4 linked regions of the Homo sapiens genome follow. The protein of the gene in region 1 interacts with the protein of each later gene in a pairwise test. Each region holds a gene or a part of one and is shown on either strand. Other genes may lie near its edges.

Region 1 (7,000 bases):
TAAACCAATAATTTTTCTCCGTAATGACAGTTCTGAGAAGAGTCTAAAATGAAATTTTTTCTCTCTTGCAGACTTCAGTACATTAGAATTTAGTAATGTATAAAATATAGTAATATTATTTCCTGTCACCATGAATCAACAAGACATAACCATAGCCTTTTGACAGTCTGGTTAAATATTTAACACTGTGATTACTATAACTTTCAGGTTCTCTCTGATAAATAATTGTAAGGAAAATAAAGACAATTCTGATATTTCAAGGATTTGTTTTTTTAACTAGAGCCTAAACTCAAAAATTCAAAGAACTATTCTCCAGTAAAGGATGGAAAAAATCTGAATTGTATTGTGCCCCAGTATAGCTCAGAGACCTAACAGTTATGAGTGGGGGCTGAGGTACTGTTTGTAGGGGTATTGCTAATCTAGTGAAGGAGAATGATTCTAAAGATTATTTTTGCCAAATTCTTTATTCTTGCATGGAAATAATCATTGTTGCTTTGATATGCCATCTCTTTATTGCCCTTATACAGGGCCAACATGAAAGTAAAGAGTGGTTATGAGTTTTTAAGGGAGAATTTCTCTGTAAACCATTCTTGACATTGGGTTTATACTATTAGGAATGCTATTGTTTCTATATCCAGACTCCCTCACTCTTTTGCTTTTATACCAAATGTTAGATTTAGAGCTATTATACAGCATCTTGATCTTTCATTTTTTTATTCCAGTGACATTCCGTAATTAACATGAATATAAAGATGCAAAAAGAACAAACATTTTATCTCCAGATATTATAGTGCAAGGGAAGGTGCTTTCACTTATGGTAACATTTCAACATGGCTTCATATTAGAAACTGCAGTGATGCTTCAGATACAGAAATTAAACTTGGCAGTTCTCTGCAGCAGTGGTTCTCAAACCTTAGCATGCAATCAGGACTACATGGGGTGCTTGTTAAAACACAGAATTCCAAACCCATAGAGTTTCTGCTTCAGGAGGCCTGAGCTAGAGCCCAATAATCACATTGAGAACCACTATTCTAGCACTGGTTCACCCTTTTCTTCTGACATAGTTTTCTAAGTGTATAGAGTAATTTATAGTTCATAACCTTGATGCTCTGATACGGGATCATAAGTACAAATTCAACAAATATTTTCTTGATACATCTTTTTTATCACATGAAAGTTTGTTAAACCAAGAGTATTGTTGAGAGAGAAGTTAAAAGCAGCAGTTTAATTAAGTGAGCAGCAAAATGCTGAAGATGGGAATAATGTGCAAAAGAATACCTTATCACTTTATGTTGCCTCTCTTGGCTCAGAGACCTTGAATGTGAGCCTGCTTGTTATTGTCTAAAACTGAACAGTGTATCTGGATAAAATACATGAAGCAGCATATTCCCAGTGCTTTGTGTTTTCTGAAAATGCTTACTGTCAGTATGTTTTATTGAGTAAATTAATCCTTTTTTTCTACAGGTGATGGGCCCCAGTGTAGAGATTATGTCATAAGTCTTGGAGTTGTGAAACCTTTACTTTCCTTCATAAGTCCATCTATTCCTATAACATTCTTAAGAAATGTTACTTGGGTTATGGTCAACTTATGTCGCCACAAAGACCCACCACCACCAATGGAAACCATTCAGGAGGTAAACACTTTTAAAAAAAAATTAAAAGAGATACCATTATATATATATTTTTTATTTGTGTATGTTTTTAAATCTACATATTTCTCTCCTCAGATTCTTCCAGCCCTTTGTGTTTTAATTCATCACACAGATGTAAATGTGAGTAAATGTGTCCTATTATATATTTATGTATGTATGTATGTATTTCTAGGGCTTCCCCTGTGACATAGGGGAGAAATATTATACTAACACATTGTGTCAGCATACTATCAGATTTTCCCATTTCAAGAGTTATTTTATATTAGATTAGTTATTTTATAATATTTTAATATTTACTCTATGTTTATCTATATCACAAAATATAATACCAGTTAAGAAATCAAGCATAACTGTTATTTTGGTGTGGACAATATTGTATGTATGTGTATATATTAGTGTTATAAAAACTGACATTAAAAGTTTTTAAAGTTGCCAGATAGTGGTGATTTCTCTTACTAAGATCATGTCTTTAATTGTTCTTGTGCTTTTTACAGAAGGTCATTTTGACAGTTTGGCCAATGAAAGCACACACAAATAGTGCTATTTTTGTTTTTTGAAAGATGAAAAAGGAAAATGTTTGTGCATGGATTTGTATTCATATACACATACCAAACCATGGACATCAATTGCCCTTTAATTCCATTTTTATTCTATTTCTCAGTTACAGTGACTGGCAGTGGCTTCATTTATCAAGATAACTTGATTATCCAAACAACAGGAAAAAAAAATCAGTGCAGGCAAGATTTTAAACATAGCAAATATATTTTGCTTATTTTTACTAACACAGATGGCAGAGGAAAAAGCAACTCAGGGAGTATGAATGAGGTGGAAAACTGCCCTGAGTGCTTGTAAAAGCCAGACCAGCCTTTGGTGTGTTAGAGAAACCAGGAATATAATGGGTAAGGGAAAACACATGAATGAAATGTTTAGCAACAATCAGGAACTCATGTGGTTCTTTAAAAACAGTTTGGCATGGTGACCAGTGTTGGACAAGCTGCTTCATTTCTTTACAATTTAAAGGCCTATGCCTTTTGGCCAGAATTTAATTTGTATGGAACAAATTAAAATTAGAATTTTACTGTATCAAACAGTGACATAATATATAAAATTCATTAGATGAACATGATCTCTGTGGTAGAGTTTTTGTTTGTTTTTAGCCCCAGATAGTTTAGGATCTTAAAAAATGTGTAAGTAATTTTTGGTTTTGGCTCCTTAATAGCCAAGTTCTTTGATTAAATTGTGAATTTCAATATTTTGCTTTGAAAGATTTACAAGAGGCCAGGTGTGGTGGCTTATGCCTATTGTCCCAGCACTTTAGGAGGCTGAGGCAGGAGGATCACTTGAGTGCAGGAGTTCGAGACCAGCCTGGGCAACATGACGAAACCCTGTCTCTATGAAAAATACCAAAAAATTAGCCAGGCATAGTGATGTGCACCTGTAGTCTCAGCTACTCAGTGGCTGAGGCAGGAGGATCTCCTGAGCTGGGGAGGTCAAGGCTGCAGTGAACTGTGATCATGTCACTGCACTGCAGCCTGAGTGACAGAGCAAGACCCTGTCTCAAAAATAAATAAATAAATAAATAAATAAAACGATTGGCAAGAAAGATTTAACTTCAAAGTTTATACCTCTACTAGAAAACAAGACATCTTGGTTGACTTTATTTAGAGATAGATTGTGTTCTTTCCACCTATTTACTCCAATCTAGATGAGACTGTGACTCCATTTTCTTGCCTTTGATGTATCTTGAAGAATTTCTCAAGCCTGTTTACATTGTTCTTTTTAGTAACATGATTAACAAATAATATTGCTTACTAAATAATGTGTTAGAAGTTTGATTTGAATTATGATTTTGATCTGAGCATATTAGTGACATGTCCTTTAAAAACATGTATCTAGCTTTTATATACAGTTATGAGCAAGTAACTTGAAATTTTTGGCCTATGTCAACAAATTTTAGCATATGTTAATATTCCAGAAAAGAAACTCAGTTACATTTGCAAATTGAAATTTAGGTTTTTTCACATATATTGATACCATTTTTTTATGTGAATTCTTTTTTTTTTCTTTTTGAGACAGAGTCTCGCACTGTTTCCCAGGCTGGAGTGCAGTGGCATGATCTCCACTCACTGCAACCTCTGCCTCCTGGGTTCCAGCGATTCTCCTGCCTCAGCCTCCCGAGTAGCTGGGTTTACAGATGCCCGCCACCACGCCTGGCTAATTTTTTTGCATTTTTTAGTGGAGACAGGGTTTCACTATGTTGGCCAGGCTGGTCTTGAACTCTTGACCTCGTGATCCACCCACCTTGGCCCCCCAAAGTGCTGGGATTGCAGGCGTGAGCCACCACACCCAGCCTGTGCGAACTCTCATTTGATGTCTTCTTTTTACATTAGAAATATCCTTAGAGCTTTCTTGAATTTCCTAAGAAACAATGGCAAAGCATTATTTTCACCTTTTAGGAGTTTCGGGGTGTCTTTTTGGTTTTTTTTATCTTATTTTTTTATTTTCTCTTGGGTGTCCTAAGCATAACATTAGTTTACAGTTTTACGATTTTTTTAAAGTCAGGGTCATAAAAACAAGAAAAAATAAACAATGCCGAATTGTTTCTGTTTTTCATAGAGACGGGGTTTCACCGTGTTGCCCAGGCTGGTCTGTAACTCCTGGGCTCAAGCAGTCCACCTGCCTTGGTCTCCCAAAGTGCTGGGGTTACAGGCGTGAGCCACTACTCCCTGCCTAGTTTATTGTTTTAAAGGTTTTACACTTCTCCAGCTTGTCTTGACACAGAGTTCATATTCTGGAAAGGCTTTGGAAGTAGTTTTAGGCACAATTATTATTCCCATGTCTTTGTCAATAATTTGTGTATTTATTTGCAGCAGTTACAGTTGTTTGTCATACTGCCCTTTGGTCATAACTTCTAATTAGGACCTAACGTACTAGGAAAGATCAAACACATGGCCTGTTGTACTTAAAGATGTAATCGTTAAAAAAAATGGTAGGCTACTTAGTAGAAGTTGATTACACAGGCTTTTTTTTTTTTTTCATAAGTAGCAGCTGTAGTGAAGTACGTATTTTTTGTTTTAATTACAGGTCTCACAGATTGACCTATGATTATTTTAATGTCTTGATCTGCAGCTGTAGGGGACTTCCACTATTTAAGAAGTTGCTGGCCGGGCGCAGTGGCTTACGCCTGTAATCCCAGCACTTTGGGAGGCCGAGGCGGGCGGATCATGAGGTCAGGAGATCGAGACCATCTTGGCTAACACGGTGAAACCCCGTCTCTACTGAAAAATGCCAAAACTTAGCCAGGCGTTGCGGCATGCGCCTGTAGTCCCAGCTACTCGGGAGGCTGAGGCAGGAGAATGGCATGAACCCGGGAGGCGGAGCTTGCAGTGAACCGAGATCGCGCTGCTGCACTCCAGCCTGGGCGACAGAGCGAGACTCCGTCTCAAAAAAAAAAAAAAGTTGTCTCCAGTTCTGTAAGGCAAAACAAACTGGTTGGAAAAGATTAAAGTATTTTATACTACAATATGAATACTTGGGTTATTGGCTTTAGGCATATCTACATGGTACTTACAATACTAGAGAACTCCTTGAATATATTCATCTAGCCCAGATGTTTTGAACAACTGTGCATGTTGGATACATGTAGTCTTTCCAGCTTTATACATGAGCCACAATGTTTTTGGACCTGTTATCCCTCAGCCTTTGGGAAAGAGAATGTCTTTTTCTCCTGTTTTATGAGCTGTGTAGTGTGCGTGTGTATCTTAGTGAACTAAGATTGGATACTAATCTGGGATCAGAATCCTGAATATGGCTAAAAGATGTACGTCTTAGTACAGACATTTATAGATGATGATGTTTAATACCGTAGCGATCAGATTCCAATGAATTAAACTGAGAGAAGAAAAGAAGGAAGAAGGTAGTTGAACAATTTTAGAATGGTTGTTTGGTCAAGAATTACTAAAATGAGAAAATATTTAAAAGTTGTTTGAATTTTTATTTTATTCATTAGATACTGGTAGACACAGTCTGGGCCCTCTCTTACCTTACTGATGCTGGCAATGAACAAATACAGATGGTAATAGACTCTGGAATAGTTCCTCATTTGGTTCCTCTGCTCAGCCACCAGGAAGTTAAAGTTCAGGTAAGTTTGTTCTTAGTTAAATTATAAGTATTTCTTACCACTAATTGCTTTAAGCATGGCATTCAAAGATGGACAATTTCAGTAGTTTAAAGTATATTCTTAGCATAACAACAAATCTGTGATGGAAAGGGGAAAATAAATAATAAGATGCCATTGTAGATTACTAATTTCTTTTTTTAAGATGGGGTCTCACTGTCACCCAGGCTGGAGTGAGGTGGCGTGATCTCAGCTCACTACAACCTCCACTTCCTAGGTTCAAGGAACATTCTCCCACCTCAGCCTCTTGAGTGGTTGGGATCACAGGCACACACCATCATGTGTAGCTAATTTTTTTCTATTTTTGATACAGTCAGGGTTTTGCCATGTTGGCCAGGCTGCTCTTGAACTCCTGGCCTCAAATGATCCTTCCACCCCAGCCTCCCAAAGTGCTGAGATTACAGGTGTGAACCACCATGCCTGGCCGGATTACTGATTTTTAATGTAGACCAGGGAAGTTCATTATAGCAACATGCATGGCATCTGAAACAAGTATTGACAGACACTTATTTTTTCCTACTCCTCTTCTTTTTGTTCTTCCTCTTTCACTTCCCTACTTCTTTTTTTTTCTTCCTTGCCAACCATCCTTATTTACTCACCTGGCAAGTTTAGTTAACTCTTATCTTCATTGGTGCTGAAATAAGGGTACTCTACTGAAATGTGCTGTTTAGGGACTTTCTAAATTGTTGCTTTTCACTTATTTAAATTTATTTTTTATTGTTTAAATTCTTTCACATAATATTTATCCCAAAGAATTTGCATTTAGAAAGAGCCAAAAACAGAGTGTGAGAAGTTCTCAGAGATATAAGCAGTAGCTGTTAAGCTACAGTTGTAATGGGGGAGACGCAGCAAGCTCCCTCTACCTTTCTGAGGTAAATAGTATATTTTAATCTGCTAATGGCTTAGAATCTGTAAAGTACAATAATCGCATAAGAGAAACCGTTAGTCTGTAGCCTAAGTCATTATGCCTGAACATCAAAATAAACTGTGTGGAGCTGTTTTTAATTTCTCCTGCTCAACCCCTGGAGATTTCTGTTTCAGAAAATATTTCTTAGAAACTTGAGCTTTAAAATGCTCTTCAGGTGATACTGATACATAGTCAGATTAGAGACCCTGTACCTTAAAATTAAAGCACTTTAAAGAAGGAACACTTAGCTAAATACAGAAAGAA
Region 2 (6,407 bases), on another chromosome or scaffold:
GACAGAGCCAGACTCCGTCTCAAAAAAAAAAAAAAAAAATAACCATAACATACAAAGTGATAACTGCTGAGGAACCTACCTCCTACTCTTATCCCCAGAATTATCTATGTAAAGAATCCATTTTTACCTATGCTTCTTCCATCACTTAAGATTATGAGGTAGATAATAAATTTCATTGCATTGCTATTTAGTTATAAATTCAGCTAGTCATATAAACAGTAACATACTCATCTAAAGGAACCTAATGCCAGAGAGAAGATAATAGTTATGAAATGGAGACAATAATAACTTAACTCTTTTGTAGGCAATGGGGTTTCAAATGCAATATGAAGTACATTAATTCCAAGAGTTGTACCACTAGAGGTGCGATGGCAATGTAAACAGTCTAAACAATGTACACTATCTTCATCTACCAATTCCATGTATAAAATGTTCCTAGGGAACTAGTAAGACTCTTGTGAGATTTGTCATTACCATTGCTTGATAGCTGAAAATTGGAAACAGTGCCAGTTAATAAGAAATGGGTATATCCATATGATAGAATATTGTATTTATTAATGTGGAGCTCTTTGTACCAAATATAAGTTTAAAAATCAGGTTATCAAAGAGTATGTATGATACAACGCTTTTTTAATAAAATAAAATACATTTACATACATAGTCACTATGCCACAAGATGTTAAGAATAGTTTTCTCTAGATAGTGGCCTTACAGGCAATTTTTATTTGGGGTGTGTGTGTTTTACTCAATAAATATTTATTACTTTTGTATTCAGAAAAAACATTAAGAGAATCATAGGAAAGTTTAACTAAAAAAGAAAATCTTTAAAATATCATTAAATTATTTAACATATCCTTCAAGTGAGATTGTTTCCTTTTGCTAAGCTATATTTTGTAATCTCCACAACAAACATGAAATAGTAAAGTTGACATAAAAAAACTTGCACAGTAATAGGAAGCAGTGTTTACATTTTGCCACCCCTTACATTTTGAAGAGGGAACTCATATTCTTAACCAAGACTGTTTCTTATCATTATTCAAAGGTACCTACTTTTCCTAAATATTGCAATTAAATTATTTGTACTTAAGAAAGCAGTGTATTGTAAAGGAACCAGCCAGACCTGGGTTAAATTCCTAATTTTGCCATTTAACTTTGACATAACCACCTAAACCCAATCAAAAAACGAAAAGTATAGGTACTCAACTGAGCCAGTGAACAGAATATTTAGTCCAGGTACACACCAGGTAGTTCCAATTTAATACTCAGCAAAGTACATATCCCCTCTATTTACATTTTGCTCATTTCCTTTTGATATTCCAAAAGTTCTTACTTGGGTTACTCTTGACAATTAGAACCTTTCTTGCCCATTTGGGGAACAATTATTCTTCTAAGGCTATAATTTGGCATTAAGCCAGGGGATTCATGGTTTTTACACCACGAGTATTGAGAATGTTGCTATTTCTGGCAACGTCTTTATGAAAAGATCTTTCCCACTTTTGAAAATAGTTACGCTTCTCTCAAGAAACTGGGTTACCTCAGACACAATAAATTGTGTAATTAATGTGATGGTTCCTTCTTTGTGTTAATTGCTAGGATGTTCACACACATCTGTGATCTCTCTAGAAAGTATAGCATAGCATGTACTTTAAGTAGTTAACTCCCTCTTGGCTTCACTTTTTTTTTTCTGTTATATGATTCATCCTATTATGTCTACTTCTGAAAGCAGAGATAATACTGGCCCTCATTTAAAGGGGTTTTAAGGATTAAATATCAGTGTGTCTACTATTCTGCCTGGACCACATAGAGGGCTCAAAAATAGTAATTTCACATGACAGGTTCTAGACTTTCAAATAATACAGTTTGATGTACTCTTGCTTATGTAACCACCTGATAAAATTCAACATGTTCCAAATTCCCTTTGAAATAATGGAAAATGACAAAAATAAACAGCCAAATATCAAAACTAGAATGAAAAATGAAGTTACCTCAAATAGTGAAGGGCAAAAGAAACTGGATCTAAGCCTGGAGTTAAATTGAGACCTCGTCTGTCTGAACTGATACATGACTAACACAGCTTACCAACTGGCTTTTTCTTCATCTAAAAATAGGCCATTAAACAAATATACTTTAGGATTTATAAATGACAAATCAAGAAATTATCTTATATTGTTTTAATATATGAATTTATAAATTATTTTATAAATTTAATATAATTTAAAAAATTTTAAAGTAGTTATCCTAAAACAAGACCTTGAAATGTATCAGTGCTGTTCGAAGGATCTAGCAATGAAGGTGGAGAAGTTAAATAAAAGATAATTGACAACAACAGTTTGGTGTACATTAAGTAATAAAAGCAAGTTATATGAGTAACAGCCCTTGTCTTCTTAGTGGCTAAGGTAAGGGGAAGATGTCATTGTCATTGTGTTGTTGCTGATTATAGCTTATTTTAAATTTGTGTTCACACTCTTGAAAATCTACCCAAATTACACAGGAAAATCTCACAGTTCAGCAGTGCAAAAATTTTATTTCTGTTTCCCCTCCCCACCACTTTACAAGATGTAAAATTTTACTTAATCCACCGTATTCTCTTTTTTTAATTATCTGTTATCAGTCATGTCAAATGTGAGGAAAAAAACACTAATCAATTAAAAATATCCGTCCCTCTTCCCCACTGCTACAGCAAATTTAGGATAAATCTACAGCATTCACTTACTTTAGCTGGTTCTGATACTGAGGAATACTTTTTTATTTGAGAATCAACACCTAAAGACTTGGCTAATTGTACAGCATTTGAATCATCACTGATAAGTGTTCCAAGAGCCACAAGAAGTCTAAAAGTGGCTTCTAGGTCTTGTACTACTTCCAAGATTGTGCTAATTAGTGACAAACATTGGGCTTTCCCTTCAATGTTATGGTCTTTATGAAAACAAACAGAATAGTTCAGGGCCAATGTAGCCAGAGCAATGTGAATGTTCTTATTGCTCCCTGATTTCAGTTCTATTGCATGGGACATCAGTGATTCCCTCTGGGACATCATGAGTTTTTGTCCTGCCTGGCCAACAAAACAATTGCAAAAAGTCCTGAGAGCAAGCAGCTGGTTTGCTGGCTTTCCTTTAGGGTTCAGAAGATTGATAAGATGACTGCTGAACTGAGCCCCTTCCTTTTCATTGCAGAAGTTCTCATTCACACTGGGGTGTTTAATTGACAACCGAAGAATGTCAAGTGCAGGAAAGACAATATCTATTAAAAAAAAAAAGTCATTAATGCTTATGAAAATAAAGAAAATTTCTTTTGACTATCGACTTTGAAGGATTTTATTTTCCCACTGCAAAACTAACCATTTTAGAAAATGTGAAAAATCATGTGTCTGCTTTAAAAAAAATGCATATATTTCTGAAACTTTTGTTAATTTTTCATATTTATATAAACTAGATTTATTGCTGTAAGATCATATTCGCTTTAAAAATAAGGTAACTCTCTCAAACAGCCTACACACTGTGAGTATTCAAAAATGAATGGAAAGAATGGGGTGCAGACTTTGCTTTTAAAAAATTCTGTAAGACCGAACAATTAAACAGGGAAAGTTCTTTTTTTTTTTTTTTTTTTTTTTGAGACAGTTTCACTCCTGTTGCCCAGGCTGGATTGCAATGGCATGATCTCGGCTCACTGCAACCTCCACCTCCCGGGTTCAAGCAATTCTCCTGTCTCAGCCTCCCAAGTAGCTGGAATTACAGGTGCACGTCACCACGCCCAGCTAATTTTTGTATTGTTAGTAGAGACGAGGTTTCATCATATTGGTCAGGCTGGTCTCAAACTCCTGACTTCAGGTGATCTACCCAAGTTGGTCTCCCAAAGTGCTGGGATTACAGGCATGAGCCACCGTGCCCAGCCGGAAAGTTCTTAAGAGAAGAATTCCAGTTAACAAGTGATAGGATGCTTATAGGTTGGTGGGAGCTTTATAATCAAGGGCCTGGGTAGATGCCATCTGAATGAATGCACAAAATAATCTTAGCATCACTAAAGGTGAGGAAATCCAACATTATGTGCTCCGTAATGTAAAAGTAGTATGCATCATCATTTATAAAGGATTTCACCTAAAAAAAAAACACCTACTGAACCAGAATCTAATTTTGCCACTAGCAATAAATACAGAGATGGAGGAACACATCAGCAAAATCCATAATATGGGACATTTTATTGAAAAAAAAAAAAAAAAGACTTTTTCTCCAATAAATCAGTGGCATAAAAAAAAATAACAGGCAAGGACTCTTTGAGAATTAAAAAAGACTTAACTGACATAATTGGAAAAAAAAAAACTTACAGTAAATATTTGTAGCCTAGGGTTAACAGGTCACTAAGAGTATCTTGGATGCCTGGCCAGGAATCCACAAATGCTCTGAAACAGTAAACAAACAGGTGCATGCCCGGGCGCGGTGGCTCACGCCTGTAATCCCAGGCTGAGGCGGGAGGATCACGAGGTCAGGAGATTGAGACCATCCTGGCTAACGTGGTGAAACCCCGTCTCTACTAAAAATACAAAAAATTAGCCGGGCATGGTGGCGGGTGCCTATAGTCCCAGCTACTAAGGAGGCTGAGGCAGGAGAACGGCGTGAACCCGGGAGGCGGAGCTTGCAGTGAGCTTGCAGTGAGCCGAGATCACGCCACTGCACTCCAGCCTGGGCGACAGAGCAAGACTCCATTTCAAAAACAAAAACAAAACAAAACAAAAAAACAAAGAAAACAAACAACAACAACAAAAAAACAAACTGGTGCATATATGGGGATCATATATTACCTTCAGATTCTCAAAAGGCATGTAACGGAAACAAGATCATCAATTCCAGTAGTGTAGTGAACCCTTTTCGTGAAGATTTTCCATAGTGATTTAGAACTACCGAAGTTAACTTTCATTTAATCCACAAATACCAGTAATATTGATAGAAATGAAGATAAAACTTCTTGCTTTCTGGTTACATTTTTGAAGAGTGTTTATTTACCTTCAGGACAGTTAATAGCTTTCCACAAAATCTGAAGTTGCTGGACTGTGGGTTTTTCTGAAGAACTATTACATATTAGAGACAGTATCTTCTCAAGAAGTATCAAGTCATCCTCAGTTAACTTCTTCTCTTCAGGTGCAGTTCCATTAAGTTCCTTCAGTTTACCTAGAACCCAAAACCAAACTTTCAAAATTCTCTAACTGTAATTGGCCAGATAATATATAAATGCCAAGACTTTCAATAAAAGTACTCTAGTGTACACCATGGGGAGTTAAGACTTTACTCAGCAATTATCAAACACCATAAAGTAAGGATAAGGCTTATGAGCTTTGTCTTTTTTTTTTTTTTTTTTGAGATGGAGTCCTGCTCAGTCGCCCAGGCTGGAGTGCAGTGGCGCCATCTTGGCTCACTGCAAGCTCGCCCCCCAGGTTCAAGCAATTCTCCTGCCTCAGCCTCCTGAGTAGCTGGGACTATAGGCGCCTGCCACCATGCCTGGCTAATTTTTTGTGTTTTTAGTAGAGACGGGGTTTCACCACATTAGCCAGGATGGTCTCAATCTCCTGACCTCGTGGTCCACCCTCCTTAGCCTCCCGAAGTGCTGTGATTACAGGTGTGAGCCACCACGCCTGGCCTTATTATTATTATTTTGAGATGGAGTCTCACTCTGTTGCCCAGGCTGGAGTGCAGTGGCATGATCTCGGCTCACTGCAACCTCCGCCATCAGGATTTTCAAGCGATTCTCCTGCCTCAGCCTCCCGAGTAGCTGGAACTACCAGCATGCACCACCACACCAGCTAATTTTTGTATTTTTAGTAGAGATGGGGTTTCACCATGTTGGCCAGGCTGACCAACATGGTGAAAAACTCCTGACCTCAAGTGACCCACCTGCCTTGAACTCCCAAAGTGCTGGCATTACAGGCATGAGCCACCACGTCCGGCCTCCATTTTGGATGACTTTCAAAGCAGTATCATGTGTAATATATATTCAAGTGTAAGTCAATAACCTAGTTTCTCCATGAGAAAATTTATAACAACTTTTTAGCCAATTTATGTCAAATTCTACAGCTGTCAATGAAATAGTCAAAGAGTTAAATGCCTACTGATAACATTTAATTTATGACTTAGTTCCATATGCATATTTGATGTCACATTATTTTAAAAATTTATTTAATGGACATACTGCCCTTTCTTCCCATGTTCTCATTTCATGAAACAATTTCCTTCAAATCCTTCGCATGTATCTTTAGTATCAGTATCCTTTGTATCATGACTTTGAGTTACTGTGTTTCTTTAAAAATCTTTATCTCAAGAATAAAAAAGTCCAAATTCCGATAATAAGGAAAATTATCCAAATTTACACCATTGAAATCAATTATAAATGGAAACTAGGGCCTGTTTCACTAATCTCAG
Region 3 (7,199 bases), on another chromosome or scaffold:
CAGCCGGCGGAGGTTGCAGTGGGCCGAGATCGCACCATTGCACTACTCCAGCCTGGAAGACAGAGCCAGACTCCGTCTCAAAAACAAAAACAGAAAAAAAAACTTAAATGGAAAAAAAGTCATCAAATGGGATGCAAAGTTTGATTAAAATTGCTAAATATATACAGATCTATGTGCACATAAAATATTGGAAGGGAACTTGCAAACATTAATAGTTATGTTACTTATGTGTTCATGTTGAGTGAACTTTTTATTTATTTACATTTCTTTTCAAACTTTTCTGTAATATGCCTATTTCCTCCTTTATGACAAAACCTATTGGAAAAACAAACCATAATGTCTCAATCAGGGAAGAATAACTAGAACAATCATTCTTTTTTGTTCTATTTATTCTTCTTTCTTAAAGTTTCACCATTTGCGTGGGCTCGGGTCCTCAGCCTCATTTTGCTGATAAAATTTAAGAGCTTAAAGCAGTAGCTTTTAGTTTTGTGGGTATTTTCGCTGAGAATTAAGGCTGAAAGAGGAAGTTATCATCTTGGAACTTAGGGGAAAATTCTACAGAACAGTATATCAGACTTTTAGGATAAATCTCCTTCTTTCTAGTTGTTTTTCTTGTTAAACTTTTCTGAGAATTTGAGGCTCAACCTTTTAATTCTGGGAGCTGGCTATAGTATTTGGAGGCCGTGACTGAGTTCAGGAGGTGGATGCTGGATAATGGGAGGGTGGATGATAAGGTTTAGGGATGATATTGACATTCAAGTTCTGATTCGATTAGAGAAAGAGTGAATATAGTATTTGTGGCCAAACGATAGTCGATTGAATTAAAGTTTAGTTGGTTGGATCATTTAACTGAAAAAAAGAGGTGGAGAGGCTATCTTATTTATGTTAAGTGTAATAAAGGTAATTATATGGGAAACCTGAGAGAGGAGACTATTGGTAATTTTGTCCATCTGTGGGTGGTGATGGTGATGGTGGGTGCTCCAGGCTTCCTCTTGGAGATGACATTTGTGCTGATCTTCAGGGATAGCACAGCGAAGGGCAGGACTTTCTAGAAAGAGTACGTCCAGAGGTAACAGTTATGAAAGGGCAACTTTTTTTTTAGATGAAGTCTTTCTGGGTCACCAGGCTGGAGTGCAGTGGTGCGATCTTGGCTCACTGCAACCTCCATCTCCTGGGTTGAAGCAATTCTTCTGCCTCAGCCTCCCGAGCAGCTGGGACTACAAGGCATGCACCACCACACCCAGCTAATTTTTTTTATTTTTATTTTTATTAGAGACGGGGTTTCACCATGTTGGCCAGGATGGTCTCGATCTCTTGACCTCGTGATCCACCCGCCTCGGCCTCCCAAAGTGCTGGGATTACAGGTGTGAGCCACTGCGCCTGGCCTGAAAGGGCATCTTCTATTCAGGCGCAGTGAAAAAGCTGGGTGAATGCTGCAGGGGTCCACCTATTAGAGACCTTAGAGGACAAACAAAGAGATTCTGATGTGGCTGTTACAAGGGAAGTTGGAGTTTTTCAAGTAGGAGAGTAATGTTATCAGATTCATTTTTTATGAAGATCTCTGAGGATATTGTATAGAAGTTAGACAAGAACAAGAATACAGGCATACCTCGGAGATACTGTGGGTTCAGTTCCAGACCACCACAAAGACAGTCACACAAATTTTTAAATTTTCTAGTGCATATAAAAGTTATGTTTATACTATACTATAGTCTAGTAAGTGTGCAGTAGCATTTTGTCTAAGAAAATAATGTGCATAATTTCATTAAAAATACTTAATTGCTAAATAATGCTAATGATCCTCTGAGCATTCAGTGAGCTGTGCTCTATTTGCTGGTGGAGGGTCTTGCCTCAGTGTTGATGGTTGCTGACTGATCAGGGTGGTGGTTGCCAAAGGCTGGGCCTGTGGCAGTTTCTTAAATCAATATTGAGTTTGTCACATTGATTGATTCTACCTTTCACGAAAGATTTCTTTGTAACATGTAATGCTGTTTGAATCAACTTCTTCCAAACTTCTGTTAATGTTGATATTTTACCTCCTCCCAAAAACTGTGAATGTCCTTCATGGCACCTACAGTGGTGAATGCCTTCCAGAAAAATTTCAATTTACTTTGCCCAGATCCATCAGAGAAATCATTACATACAGCAGCTATAACCTTTGGAAATGTATTTCTTAAATAATAAGACTTAAAAGTCAAAATTACTCCTTGATCTATGGGTTGCAGAATGGATGTTGTGTTAGCAAGCATGAAATCAACTTTAATCTCCTTGAGCATCTCCATCAAGCTCTTAGGTGACCAAGTGCATTGTTAATGAGTAATAATATCTTGAAAGGAATAATCAGAGCAGTAAGTCTCAACACTGGGCTTAAAAATATTCAGTAAACCATGCTGTAAACAGATGTGCTGTCCTCCAGGTTTTGTTGTTCCATTTACAGAGCACAGGCACAGTAGATTTAGCATAATTTTTAAGGGCACTAAGATTTTCAGAATGGTAAGTGAGCATTGGCTTCAACTGAAAGTCTCCAGCTACACTAGCCCCTAGCAAGAGAGTCAACCTGTCCTTTGAAGCCATGAAGCCAGGCATTGACTTCTCCTCTCTAGATATAAAAGTCCTAAATGGCATCTTCTTCCAATAGAAGGCTATTTTGTCTACATTGAAAATGTATTGTTTAGGGTAGCCTCCGTCATCAGTGCTCTTAGCTAGATCTTCTGGATAACCTGCTGCAGCTTCTCCATCACACTTGCTGCTTCACCTTGCACTTTATGTTATAGAGGTGACTTCCTTCCTCAGCCTCATGAACCAACCTCTGCTACCTTCAGACTTTTCTTCTGAAGCTTCCTCACCTCTCTCAGCTTCACAGAATTGAAGAGACTTAGGGCCTTGCCCTGGATTAGGCTTTGGTTTAAGGGAATGTCGTGGCTGGTTTGATCTTCTATCCAGACCACTAGAACTTTCTCCATATAAGCAATAAGGCTGTTTTGCTTTCTTATCATTCATATGTTTACCAGGAAAGCGCTTTCAGTTTCATTCAAGATTTTTTTCCTTTGCATTCACAACTTAGCTAACTGTTTGGCAAAAGAGGCCTAGCTTTTGGCCTATCCTGGCTTTTGACATACTTTCCTCACTGAGCTGAATCATTTCTAGCCTTTGATTTAAAGTGAGAGACGTGTGACACTTCTTTTCACTTGAACACTTAGAGGCCATTGTAGGGTTATTAATTGGCCTAATTTCAATATTGCTGTGTCTCAGGCACTAGGGAAGCCTAGGGACAGGAAGAGAGATGAAGGAACAGCCAGTCAGTGGAGCAGTCAGAACATACATAACATTTATCAGTTAAATCAATAAACGTCTTTGTCTTCTACTGCACACTTCGGAGTGCCCCCAAACAATTACAATAACCTCACAGAACGATGATCACAGATCACCATAGCAGATATCACAATGAAAAAGTCTGAAATATTGCAAGAATTACCAAAATGTGACACAGGAACACGAAGTGAGCACATGCTGCTGGAAAAATGGAGCCAGTAGGCGCTTGACGCTGTGTTGCCACAAATCTTCAATTTGTAAAAACAAAAACAAAACACACAGTATCCCAGAGCTCAATAAAATAAGATATTCTTGTATTCTGGTGATGGGGCAACAATGAGAAGGCTTTAGATTAAAAAAAATGCTAATTTCCTAGATTAAGGCAAGTGGTGGGGAATGGGAGAAAAAGGAAAGTGTGAAAGGCTCTTCTGTAATTGATTACCTGTGGAGGAACGTCATTCCAGGAAAAGGCCTAGGTTTCTGGCTTGGACAATTTGATGAGGGCTCACACCGTGCTGTTCTCCTCTGGATATGTGGGTGCCATATGTAATTATCATATGATTCACGCTTCTTGGTAAGGTTATGCTCACAGGCATTGTTGCTCTTAGGCGGGAGGAGGCTGAACCGCAGTATGTATTTCACAACCAGCTTTTCCAAACTAGGTCCCAGGAAGCACTGGTTTCGGCGAGTGTTACCAGATCTCCTGCAGGGGAGAAACGGTCACGAAACATGAACTGGTCTGCCCTGCTCTTGGAGAGTTACAGTGGAAACTGGCATGTTAGAGGCTCACAGTAAAGACACTGCTACACTTTAACTCAGTGTCCCATGGTTATTAGAGCTTAGAACCCGGGGGAAACTGCTGTATAGAAGAGGTCAAACAAGCTGAGTGCAGGTTTTGTCACGAAACTGGGGGGCGAGTAGGGTTCTATTATCAAAGAATGGTTGTGTTGGGGCCATAAGAAAGAATTACAGGCAGTGGTGCGCAGGTAATGTTCACGAGACGCCACAGCGGGGTAGCATCAGAGGCGGGAGGAGGAGGGTTGGAGAGCAGGGCCGTGTTGCAAGGCTCTCTGGGTGGCCACAGCAGCTTGCGCTGCGCCCACATTGCTTCTGCGTGTTTACAGTTGGGCACGAGAAGGCTCAGCACGCACGCACAGCAGGTGGGGGCCCGCCCTGCCCACAGCGTGAAAACAGGAGCCCCGGCCAGCCACGGCTGGGCAGGGCCAGAAGCGCCTCCTCCAGGATCCTCCCCGCGCTGGCCCGCCCCACAGGAGCACCGCCCCTACCAGGAGCCCGGAGCTCTTCCCAGGGCCCGCCTCCCCGCCAGGGGGCGATCCACCTCCACTTCCTGTTTCCGCAGCCGCCCTACCAGGAGCCTGGCACTCTCCTCAGGGCCCGCCTCCCCGCCAGGGGGCGCACCGCCTCCACTTCCTGTGTCCACGGCTGTCGCGAGAGCCCGGGGCGAGTGGGCCTCTGCTCGTGGGTGGTTCTCGTGGAGGTCAGCTCCCGCGTGTCTCCGCTCGACAGGGTGCTTGGGCAGGTAAGGGTCCGCTCAGTAGCCCAACCCTCTCTGTATGCAGCTCCCCAAATTCAGCGCTGCGCTCAGGCATGGCAGCCACCCGTTACGTGGGGCCGTTCGCATTTGCATTTATTGAGGTCAAATAAAATGCTGGAAATTGGTGCCTGGTGACACTGTCAGGTTGGTGGTTACCCTAGCAGGTCGGCCCAGCCCCTGAACGCTTCCATCACTGCCGAAAGCCCTGTGAGGAGGCGCAGAGCTGAGCATTCCCCGCCGTTGCGTGGGCCCCCCTCTACCTGCCGCGTTTTTCCTCTTTGCTGCAGAGCCCATCGGGTAGGCGCGGGCCATGGCGCAGTACAAGGGCACCATGCGCGAGGCAGGCCGTGCCATGCACCTCCTCAAGAAGCGCGAAAGGCAGCGGGAGCAGATGGAGGTGCTGAAGCAGCGCATCGCCGAGGAGACCATCCTCAAGTCGCAGGTGGACAAGAGGTTCTCGGCGCATTACGACGCCGTGGAGGCCGAGCTGAAGTCCAGCACGGTGGGCCTGGTGACCCTGAACGACATGAAGGCCCGGCAGGAGGCCCTGGTCAGGGAGCGCGAGCGGCAGCTGGCCAAGCGCCAGCACCTGGAGGAGCAGCGGCTGCAGCAGGAGCGGCAGCGGGAGCAGGAGCAGCGGCGCGAGCGCAAGCGTAAGATCTCCTGCCTGTCCTTTGCACTAGACGACCTCGATGACCAGGCCGACGCGGCCGAGGCCAGGCGCGCCGGAAACCTGGGCAAGAACCCCGACGTGGACACCAGCTTCCTGCCAGACCGCGACCGCGAGGAGGAGGAGAACCGGCTCCGAGAGGAGCTGCGCCAAGAGTGGGAGGCGCAGCGCGAGAAAGTGAAGGACGAGGAGATGGAGGTCACCTTCAGCTACTGGGACGGCTCGGGCCACCGGCGCACGGTGCGGGTGCGCAAGGGCAACACGGTGCAGCAGTTCCTGAAGAAGGCGCTGCAGGGGCTGCGCAAGGACTTCCTGGAGCTGCGCTCCGCCGGCGTGGAGCAGCTCATGTTCATCAAGGAGGACCTCATCCTGCCGCACTACCACACCTTCTACGACTTCATCATCGCCAGGGCGAGGGGCAAGAGCGGGCCGCTCTTCAGCTTCGATGTGCACGATGACGTGCGCCTGCTCAGCGACGCCACCATGGAGAAGGACGAGTCGCACGCGGGCAAGGTGGTGCTGCGCAGCTGGTACGAGAAGAACAAGCACATCTTCCCCGCCAGCCGCTGGGAGGCCTATGACCCCGAGAAGAAGTGGGACAAGTACACCATCCGCTAACACCCGCCTGCCAGAGCGGAAACCGGGGGTGGGGGGAGACACTCATTTCTAGGCCCCATCACCAGTCACTTGATTTCGTGACCTTGATTTCTTCCCCCAAATTTAATAAAGACAGAGGGTTCTCATGATTCACATTGGTTGTGCTATTGCTGATGTTATGCTTTGGTTGCTTGGTTGGTCTTTTCTGAGTATTTTAGTGTTGCCACCTGGATTTGCTGCATTGCTCTGCTGAGCTGTATTGAAACCATGACTGGGCCCACTGTCAGACAGAAATTAGAATAGGAGGCACATTTTTTACCTGGTGGTTATGAGCATGGACTTGGGGGCCACAGTGACTGAGTTTGATTCCCGACACAGCCTCCTCCTTGCTGTGTAGTTTTGGGTAAGCTTATTAAACCCCCATGCCTCAGTTTGGTCACCTGTAAAAGGAAATAACAAGAGCACTTACTTTATAAGATTGATGTGAGTATTAAGTGAATTAATATTTGTAAAACGCTTAGCTCTTAATAAATGTTTCTGTTGTTATTATTATGGTTTTGGTTAATTTATTTAAAGGACTGCAATGACCTAGTTCAGAACCATTTGAGGGCAAAGGTGGACCTGCCCATCACTGGTCCCAGGATCAGCAGTTGCCAGCAGGAGGGGGCTAGCAAAGGTTGGGGAGCAGCCCCCCTCTAGTGGGCTTTAGCTGGGTTGTTTAGCCCAGAAGTTAGGAGGACAGTGAGCTAATGCAAGTAGCCTGCAGGGTCAGTATCATTGATTTTCCTTTTGCTCCAATATGACTCCACAGGGCACAGTTACAGATCCTGTCTTCATTGAAAATGTTTGTATTTTATTCATTGTGGATTATTTCTGTTAATTTTGATTTTTAAAAATACTGTATTCAGGCTGGGTGTGGTGGCTCGTGCTTGTAATCCTAGCACTTTGGGAGGCCGAGGTGGGTGGATCACCTGAGGCCAAGAGTTCGGGACCAGCCTGGCCAACATAGTGAAACCCTGTCTCTACTAAAAATACAAAAATGTGCCTGTAATCCCAGTTACTTGG
Region 4 (7,985 bases), on another chromosome or scaffold:
CCTTTTTTTTTCTTATTGTTCTTATTTCTCTGAGGCATACATGTAACCTTATAAAAACTGCCAGTTTTCTAAAGTGGTTGTATCATTTTATACTCCCTCTAGCAATAAAAGAGCATTCTAGTCATTCAAAATGCTTGTTAGTGAAGGAGTTGAGAATATACTACTCCAAAATATGCCACACTGGCATTTTGACTATTTTAAGTTAAATATGCTTAAAAAACAGCAGGCACAAGAAGATCACCGTGACCTTTCTTCTGTTTCTTAAAAGCAGATGAAATTCTCACATGAATGATGCCCTCCCGTACCAGAAGTAAAGTAACATTCCTATCACCAAAGACAGGAAGTTAATGCCAAGATAATTCTGTACCAACCTTATTAAAATAACTGATCTTCTAGCCTCAAAAATTTACTTTTTCACAATTTAGTATTCTGTCTAATTTGGTATTTAATTGCAACTCTAACTCCATCTTTGGGTCTTCACTTCCTTTGGAAGGGCCCATGCCACATTAAGTTTGTATAAAATAGTCTTGTATGTTGATCTACCTTAATTTAATTCTTAAGTCTAGCCAGAAAACCCTGAAAAGGTGGAAGTAAAATTTGCCTCCCTTATATTATCATTTGATGCTTTCAGTCTTTAACTTTGGCCATTCTGTTAGGTATGTAATGGTATCTTGATGTGGTTTTAATTTGCTTCTCTAATGTTGAGCATCTTTTTATGTACTTATCGGCTATTCTTATATCTTCCTTTTTAAAGTGTTGTCTGAACTGGGCGCTGTGGCTCATGCCTGTAATCCCAGCACCTTGGTAGGCTGAGGCAGGCGGATCACTTGAGGTCAGGAGTTCGAGACCAGCCTGACCAACATGGTGAAACACCGTCTATACTAAAAATACAAAAATTAGCCGGGTGTGGTGGCATACACCTGTAATCCTAGCTACTCAGGAGGCTGAGGAAGGAGAATTGCTTGAACCCGGGAGGCGGAGGTTGCAGTGAGCCGAGATCATGTCACTACATTCCAGCCTGGGCAGCAGAGCGAGAGTCCGTCTTAAAAATAATAAATAAGGGCCGGGCGCGGTGGCTCACGCCTGTAATCCCAGCACTTTGGGAGGCCGAGGCGGGTGGATCATGAGGTCAGGAGATCGAGACCATCCTGGCTAACAAGGTGAAACCCCGTCTCTACTAAAAATACAAAAAATTAGCCGGGCGCGGCGGCGGGCGCCTGTAGTCCCAGCTACTCGGGAAGCTGAGGCAGGAGAATGGCGTGAACCCGGGAAGCGGAGCTTGCAGTGAGCCGAGATTGCGCCACTGCAGTCCGCAGTCCGGCCTGGGCAACAGAGCGAGACTCCGTCTCAAAAAAGAAAAAAAAAAAAAAATAATAATAATAATAATAAATAAATAGCGTTGTATGGCAGATGCACCTGACAGCAATAACTTTAAGCATACCCTGAGAATACCCTGTGGTCTAAGAAGAATGTGTGCTTGGAGCTAAGGAATCCGGGAATGGCCAAGGCGAATATTCACTCCTTATCTGTGGAGCTGCTTGGGAGGCTGAGGCTGTAGAATTACGTGGGGCCCAGGAGTTCGAGGCTGCAGTGAGCTGTGATGGCACCACTGCTCTCCAACGTGGGTGACAGAGGGAGACCCTGTCTTGAAATAATAAAAATAAATAAATTATGCCCAGTTAGCCACTTGGGATCCATCTTGAAGGACTGGCTTTTTCAGGTTCACATTTGTTCACAAATGCAAACACACACACAACAATTCCTCATAATTTATATTAATAGATTTCTCTGAATGCCTCTTAGAGTTTACCATGCGCTGTGTGCTCTAAATGAATGTAACATTAAAAGTCAGATGATTTTTTTAGTTCAATTTGAATGGCAATTTTTGATGTTCTTAAATTGGTACAGAGCCATAATTCAGAATAGCGGTGCAAAGCTCACTGAGCACGTTCATGACCCTTGAAAGTCTTCGAAAACAGATTACTGGGCTTCGCTCCCAGAGAATGATTTCGTTTCTTAGGTTCTGTGGTGCAGGCAGGTTTGGAAATCACTTATCTAGAAGTCCTTAATGCTTTGTGAAACTTAAGGCCGCTCACTCCATCTACCATTTTCTCAGAGGGCAGCATAGTATTAATGGAAATGACCCGTTGCATTTTACTTCTTGCGTGCTGTTACCACCACTGCCTTTTACTCTCCTTTGAAATAATTAAAAGCACTGGGAAGGGAAAGCACTGGAGAATTTTACTAAACATAATCTGTTGCAATAAGGTGTAACTAAATAAAATGATAGAAAACTGTGCCTTTTAGAACAGGAATCAACTGCATGATCTGTGTGCTTTCCAAAAGTGTGGCTCACTCTTCTTTTGCAAAAGAAAACTACAAGGAATCTTGACAGGAAGTTGTTGGGTTTTTGTTTTTGTTTTTGTTAAGTAGTTAGTTCTACCAAATAGTTTTGCAAATAGACCCAGGCTTGACTGGCAATTAAACATGAAACTTCTCATTGGGTATTTTCGAGACTACTACGGGGAATCAGCTACCAGCTTACTGCCATGTGGAGAACTGCACGAGATTCCGGGATTGGAATCAAAATGCTAATTTAAAAGGTCAAGTGAAGCTGCTCCTCACGTTTTGGCGTGCCTGCGCTCTCTGCAGGCAGAAGCGAACAAAGACCCAGCAAGAGAAGGCAGAGGCTAAGACCCATCCCGTATCTGCTCTCCTGAAATAATTCTGGAGTCATGCCTGAAATGCCAGAGGACATGGAGCAGGTAAGAACTAGCAATTCAAGAAATGAAGCATTCTAGAGTAAGAGATGCTTTAAAAGCATTCCAGTGAACGCCTGCTAAAACCAGAATTGTTGTGTAAAGAAAATAGAAACGGGTGTCATTCATTTCCTTAAAACATAACCTCGGGACATGGAAGAATAAGCCAACTTTAGTTACTGACCCGGAGAACCAGGTTATGAAGGGCTCAGCTAAGTCTCACTAGCTGACAATACAGAATTGCACTTTCATTTACCATTTTAAATGCAATTATGTATATAAAGTTTCTACATAAATAAGGATTTTATCTGTAGTGTGTTCCTTTCCAGATGTTCTTTGTCTTTGTATGAATTGAATCTGCTAACATAACTTTTAGTTTCAGGCTGCTCTCTTTAAATGTATAGACTTAGCCACCACACGAAGTTGTATATTGTCTATGTTAAGAATGGCGTTTGATTCGCATAGACCCTACCATCATTAAAGAAAATGATTAAAAACCATATCCAAACATATGCCCCTAGAACTGTACCCAACTTTTACGGGGAAAGTATCAAGTCAGATTTTCAAAAGCAGCCAAGTTAAATTCTTTCTGTTCCTCAAGACTAGGCTGCTCTGAGAATCAGAATGCTAATTGCATATGCTTGCCCTTAAACCTGCTTCACGTTGAAGAATGAAGAATTAATTTTCTTTTCTCCCATAGAAAGGTAAGATTACATCACGTGTTGCGACTAGAAACTTTAAACCGAATTCCCAGTTAAGAGAAAAAGTAGTAAGATGATCTTGGCTGCTCCCCCGGCCCTCTTCCCGCCCTCTTCTTTGTTGTCCCCTGATTATGCTTGTTTAGCGCTGGGGCAGTCCTCAAGGATTCCCTAAATAAAGCCAAACTAATGAACAGTAATAGCCTGTGTTTAAAAAAAAAAAAAATCGGAACATAAGAAACCTCAGGCTGTCTTCGATTACTGTTCTAGAGAAACTTTATGTTTACACGAATAAGGAAATGAGTTTTTGTTGGGGGTTGAGGAGGAAGGAAAGTCATGGTGTTCTGACGTGGAAAACTTCTTTAAAAGGCTGCTTAGTCTTTAGTTTGAAAATAAACCAAAAAGGTTTAGGAGTCGGGGAAAGGCCCTAGGAAAATCCAGACAGTGGTCACGTTTGTGGACGACGTTTAGAGCTTGCTATCCTGGGCACACAAGAACCCTTGGACTGTTCGGTGCAAAGTTGGCAAATCCTACACGGCCTGTGCCAGGGTTTACTTTCTGCATCAATTTCACAGGCGTCCAGCCTGGCTGAGGATTTTTTGCGGTTTTTAACTGGAAGGGAAATAAGTCGGCATCAGCACTTAGGGCTGCTTAACTTTTAAAAGGTGGTAGAACGCCCAGCCTTACACGCTGCTGCTTAAATTCTCGGTGCTCACCAAGGCTGGGCTCGTGTGGCCCAATCCTGCAATCCCCGAGGCGGTGTTTCTTAAAGAGTGGGCTTGATTCTGGTTAAACCCATTAAGAAGTCGGACCCCGGGCTCGTTTCTTGTTCTGTAATTATGGGTAAAGTCCAAGGATCTGCGTTTTGAAGAGGTACCTAAGTAGTTCATCTTCCTTCCCCCTACAACTTTTTATTTTTAATTAGTTAAAAATAGTTTTACATTTTTGATATCTCACACACAGGTTTTTTCTTTTTTTAAGCATCCCAGGAAGACAAATGGCTCAGACGCCAACCCTTTTATTTTTATTCCTTGTCTTTTTCTAAATCTTTCAAAACCCCCACCTAGAGCTCTAGAGATGTGTCCATTATGCTCTACCCACCTCCGCCCCCGCCCCCATGACTTTAAAATGCTTTTTATTCCACTTTTTATATTGCTCAGTCGATCCTCATGCACTGCGCAGTCTGCAAACTTGAAACTCAAGGCGATCCACTTCAATCTTTTCCCGAGTCAAGAAAAAAAGGAAAAAAAGTAGAATAAAAAGCACTCAAATAAAATCTCCGAAACAAAACCTGAATTCACTGCCTAAGGTCAGGGCCTTTCTTTTGTGTGTCGCTTTAAGCATCGGCGCGTGGGCTGGGGGCAGACCGCGCGTACCCGCCCTCTTTCTGGGGCGTCGGCGGAGCGTGGCCAATCAACGGGCGCGGCTATGGCAGCGGAAGCCGGAAGCGGCGAGCGGGGTCGTTCTGGGCCTAGGGGAGGCGGGCCGAGGGCGTCTGAGCTGAGGCCCGCGTCGATCCTGGGTTGGAGGAGGTGGCGGCCGCTGAGGCTGCGGCGTGAAGACGGCGGGCATGGTGGGGCGGGAGAAAGAGCTCTCTATACACTTTGTTCCCGGGAGCTGTCGGCTGGTGGAGGTGAGGGAGTCGGCCTGGGCGTCTCCGGTGGGAGCGGGGGCGCCGAGGGGGACGAGCCACCGGGGCTCGGGCGGCTTTGCAGGCGTATTCCGCCCGGGTCAGAGCCTCCGGCCGGGAGTGGTCTCACCGCCACCCTCCCAGCCCCGGATCCGAGGGGGGCGCCACCGAGTTTGTTTATCTCAGCGCACACGGGTCAGTGTTTTTTTCTTCCAGCCACTGCGGCAGGAAGCAAGTAGGTGGAGGTTTTACTTTCGAGTTCTGTCTCTGCTCCTGAGGACGAAGAGGTTTTTCAGAATTGTTTGTTTTGATTTTGGTTTTCCCCGTTTATTCATCTTTGGTTCGTATTTCTCGATCTTACAAGTTCGTAGGTTTGAGAAAGAACAGGAAAAGGTGACTTCTCACAAATAACAGTGCTGGAGATGACAACTTATTGAACTCTTAAGTTCTCAGCACTATGTTATGCACTTGACGGGCATTACTTTAATCCTCCACTGTGAGATACTTGTTATTGCCTCATTTTGTAGACGAGAAAACGGGCATAGAGGGTGAGACATTGGCCCAGGTTCATTCCGTAAGGTTGGAGCCTGGAATTCAGATACAGGTTTGTGTGACTGTCTTGGGCTTTGAACCACTACGGAGTTTCCCTGAAGGAAGATTATGGTGATGATTGGAAGATCCATCTCTGGTGCCCCCCTCGCCCCCGTCCCATCCTGCTCCATTCCACTTAAGGGCCTCCAGCATTAATCTGTCCACAGAACATATCCAACCCTGGGGATAAGAACACTACTAATGCCCAGACCATGTCTTTTGGAGAGAGTAGAGAATATAGGAGATGGCTGTTTCTGTTATTGCAAAGTTTTCATGCTTCCAAATTTACTTAGGGTTTTCAAATCACTTTGGTTCTTTGAGGGTAAAGTTAGGATAAATGGTCTATTAAACCTCTATGTTCCTAGGTCCTCCAGACCGTGCTGAGTGCATGTTACATACGTTTACATTTATATGTATGCATTTGTATGTGTACGTGTGCATATAAAGCTTAATCTACTTTCACAAAAAGAAGTTCAGTATAAAAATGAAAATAGCTTTTCGTGTTTTCCTTCATTAAAAATGAAACAACGAAGAGCTTGGCACAGACTTACTGCTCTCAAAACCTGTAGAATTAAAGCTTACTGACTCATGAGAACGAGAACTGTCTCATAGTTAACGTTAGAGAAGCATCCTGGAGTGGTTGTTGTTAGTAATACTGTCTGTGGAGCACAGTAGCGTCGCAGTAGAAGTTAGACCAATCCCACCTAAGTAGTCAGAGAATCTTAAAAAGTAAAGCCCAGTAATGTTTACCTTAAGGGTCTGTTTCTGGGGAATTAAAAAATTAAACATGGAACTGTGCCAAGTTTTAAAGTTTCCAAAAACGACAAGGTATTTACCACTGAAATTTGGGAAAACCACATACTAATAGTATTCCATTCTTTACTTTTCTAGAACATTTTTAGTAGACATTAATGCAGGTGTGCTAAAGTAGAAATCACTGTCCCAGAGTACTGTGTTGGACCATTTGGAAGGAGCCATGTATCTCCCATTACCTATACAATTTGGTATCATTCGATTAGATACGATAATAAGAATATTTATTTATATGTACTTAATTTTTCAAGAAATGTTTTTTTGGTGTCCATAAATCTGGTCCCTTGGAGTGATTGAATTCCGTACTTCAGAGTTTAGACAATAAGAGGCAGATACGTTTAGAGTAACTTAAACTGATATTAGATCTACTTTCCCCCATATAATAAAAATTGAGAAAAAGTAGACTTCAGGCAAAGTATTATCAACTCTTTATTGTGCCTTGAGTGAACTAGATAGCATTTTATTCTTTCATTCTGACTTTCTTAAAGTGTTTAGACATTTCTTCCTTGTGCACAACTAAAATAATTTATGGAGTGCAGGTCCAAAGTAGTTTTTAGAGGGATATTTCTTTTTCTAAAGAACGAACCAAAAAGCCTCAACAAAACAGTGTAAAAGGCAGAGTATTGCTTATATAGAAGCTCAAAAACAGAGATATTTGTTTGGCATATTTTAAATTTCGGAGTAATGCATATTCAGAGGAAAAGTTACCTTATTTAAGTAAACGAAACTATTCGGACTCCTCGTGGTAGGGATAATATGGAAAATGTTAGAAATATAGAACTTTAAAGCTGAAAGAGCCTTAGTCATTTTGTCTAAATGCCTTCCCCATTTACCAATGAGGAATTAGATCAATAGAGATAGAATAACTTCTAAACACCAATTTGTGGCAGAACAGATAAAACTTTAATCATTCATGAAACCAAATATTAGTTCACAGGATTGAGACAAAATGCAGTGTATTTGACTTGACCAGAGAAGCAAGACTCAGGTTCTGGTTCCAGCTTTTTCTCTTTTACTATAGACAAAACATTTAACACTGGACTTCTTGTTACTCTCTTTGGAAATAATATCTCTTCTAACAAGCTGCTGGGTTTTTTTGTTTTCTTTTTTTTCCTCTTGCTCTTTCACCCCGTCTGAAGTGCAGTGGCTCAATCTCTGCTCACTGCAACCTCTGCCTCCAGGGTTCAAGCGATTCTCCTGCCTCAGCCTCCCAAGTAGCTGAGATTATAGGCGCCCACCACCATGCCCGACTAGTTTTTCTATTTTTGGTAGAGACAGCGTTTCACCATGTTGGCCAGGCTGGTTTTGAACCCCTGACCTCAAGTGGTTGGTCCACCTTGGCCTCCCAAAGTGCTGGGATTACAGGCGTGAGCCCTGGCACCCGGCCTCAAACTGCTATTAAAAAAACAAAAACAGCTATGATTGTATACTTATATAACACGTTAGTTTTCTTTTTTTTGGTTTTTTTGTTTGTTTGTTTTTTTGAGATGAAGT

The links.
Region 2: the proteins of KPNA4 (region 1) and PLAA interact in binary tests that used the Homo sapiens proteins (3 or more experiments, as listed by UniProt).
Region 3: the proteins of KPNA4 (region 1) and FAM50B interact in binary tests that used the Homo sapiens proteins (3 or more experiments, as listed by UniProt).
Region 4: the proteins of KPNA4 (region 1) and MAT2B interact in binary tests that used the Homo sapiens proteins (3 or more experiments, as listed by UniProt).

The regions. Positions count from the first base shown.
Region 1 is NC_000003.12:160,520,572-160,527,571, reverse strand, and holds part of KPNA4 (importin subunit alpha-3), read left to right. Parts: intron 1-1,464; coding exon 1,465-1,634; intron 1,635-1,727; coding exon 1,728-1,772; intron 1,773-5,661; coding exon 5,662-5,793; intron 5,794-7,000. UniProt on the Homo sapiens protein: Functions in nuclear protein import as an adapter protein for nuclear receptor KPNB1. Binds specifically and directly to substrates containing either a simple or bipartite NLS motif.
Region 2 is NC_000009.12:26,902,837-26,909,243, forward strand, and holds the end of PLAA (phospholipase A-2-activating protein), read right to left. Parts: intron 5,163-6,407; coding exon 4,998-5,162; intron 3,241-4,997; coding exon 2,675-3,240; 3' UTR 536-2,674; downstream 1-535. UniProt on the Homo sapiens protein: Plays a role in protein ubiquitination, sorting and degradation through its association with VCP. Involved in ubiquitin-mediated membrane proteins trafficking to late endosomes in an ESCRT-dependent manner, and hence plays a role in synaptic vesicle recycling.
Region 3 is NC_000006.12:3,844,635-3,851,833, forward strand, and holds FAM50B (protein FAM50B), read left to right. Parts: upstream 1-4,738; 5' UTR 4,739-4,852; intron 4,853-5,154; 5' UTR 5,155-5,177; coding exon 5,178-6,155; 3' UTR 6,156-6,683; downstream 6,684-7,199.
Region 4 is NC_000005.10:163,500,660-163,508,644, forward strand, and holds the start of MAT2B (methionine adenosyltransferase 2 subunit beta), read left to right. Parts: upstream 1-4,959; 5' UTR 4,960-5,027; coding exon 5,028-5,090; intron 5,091-7,985.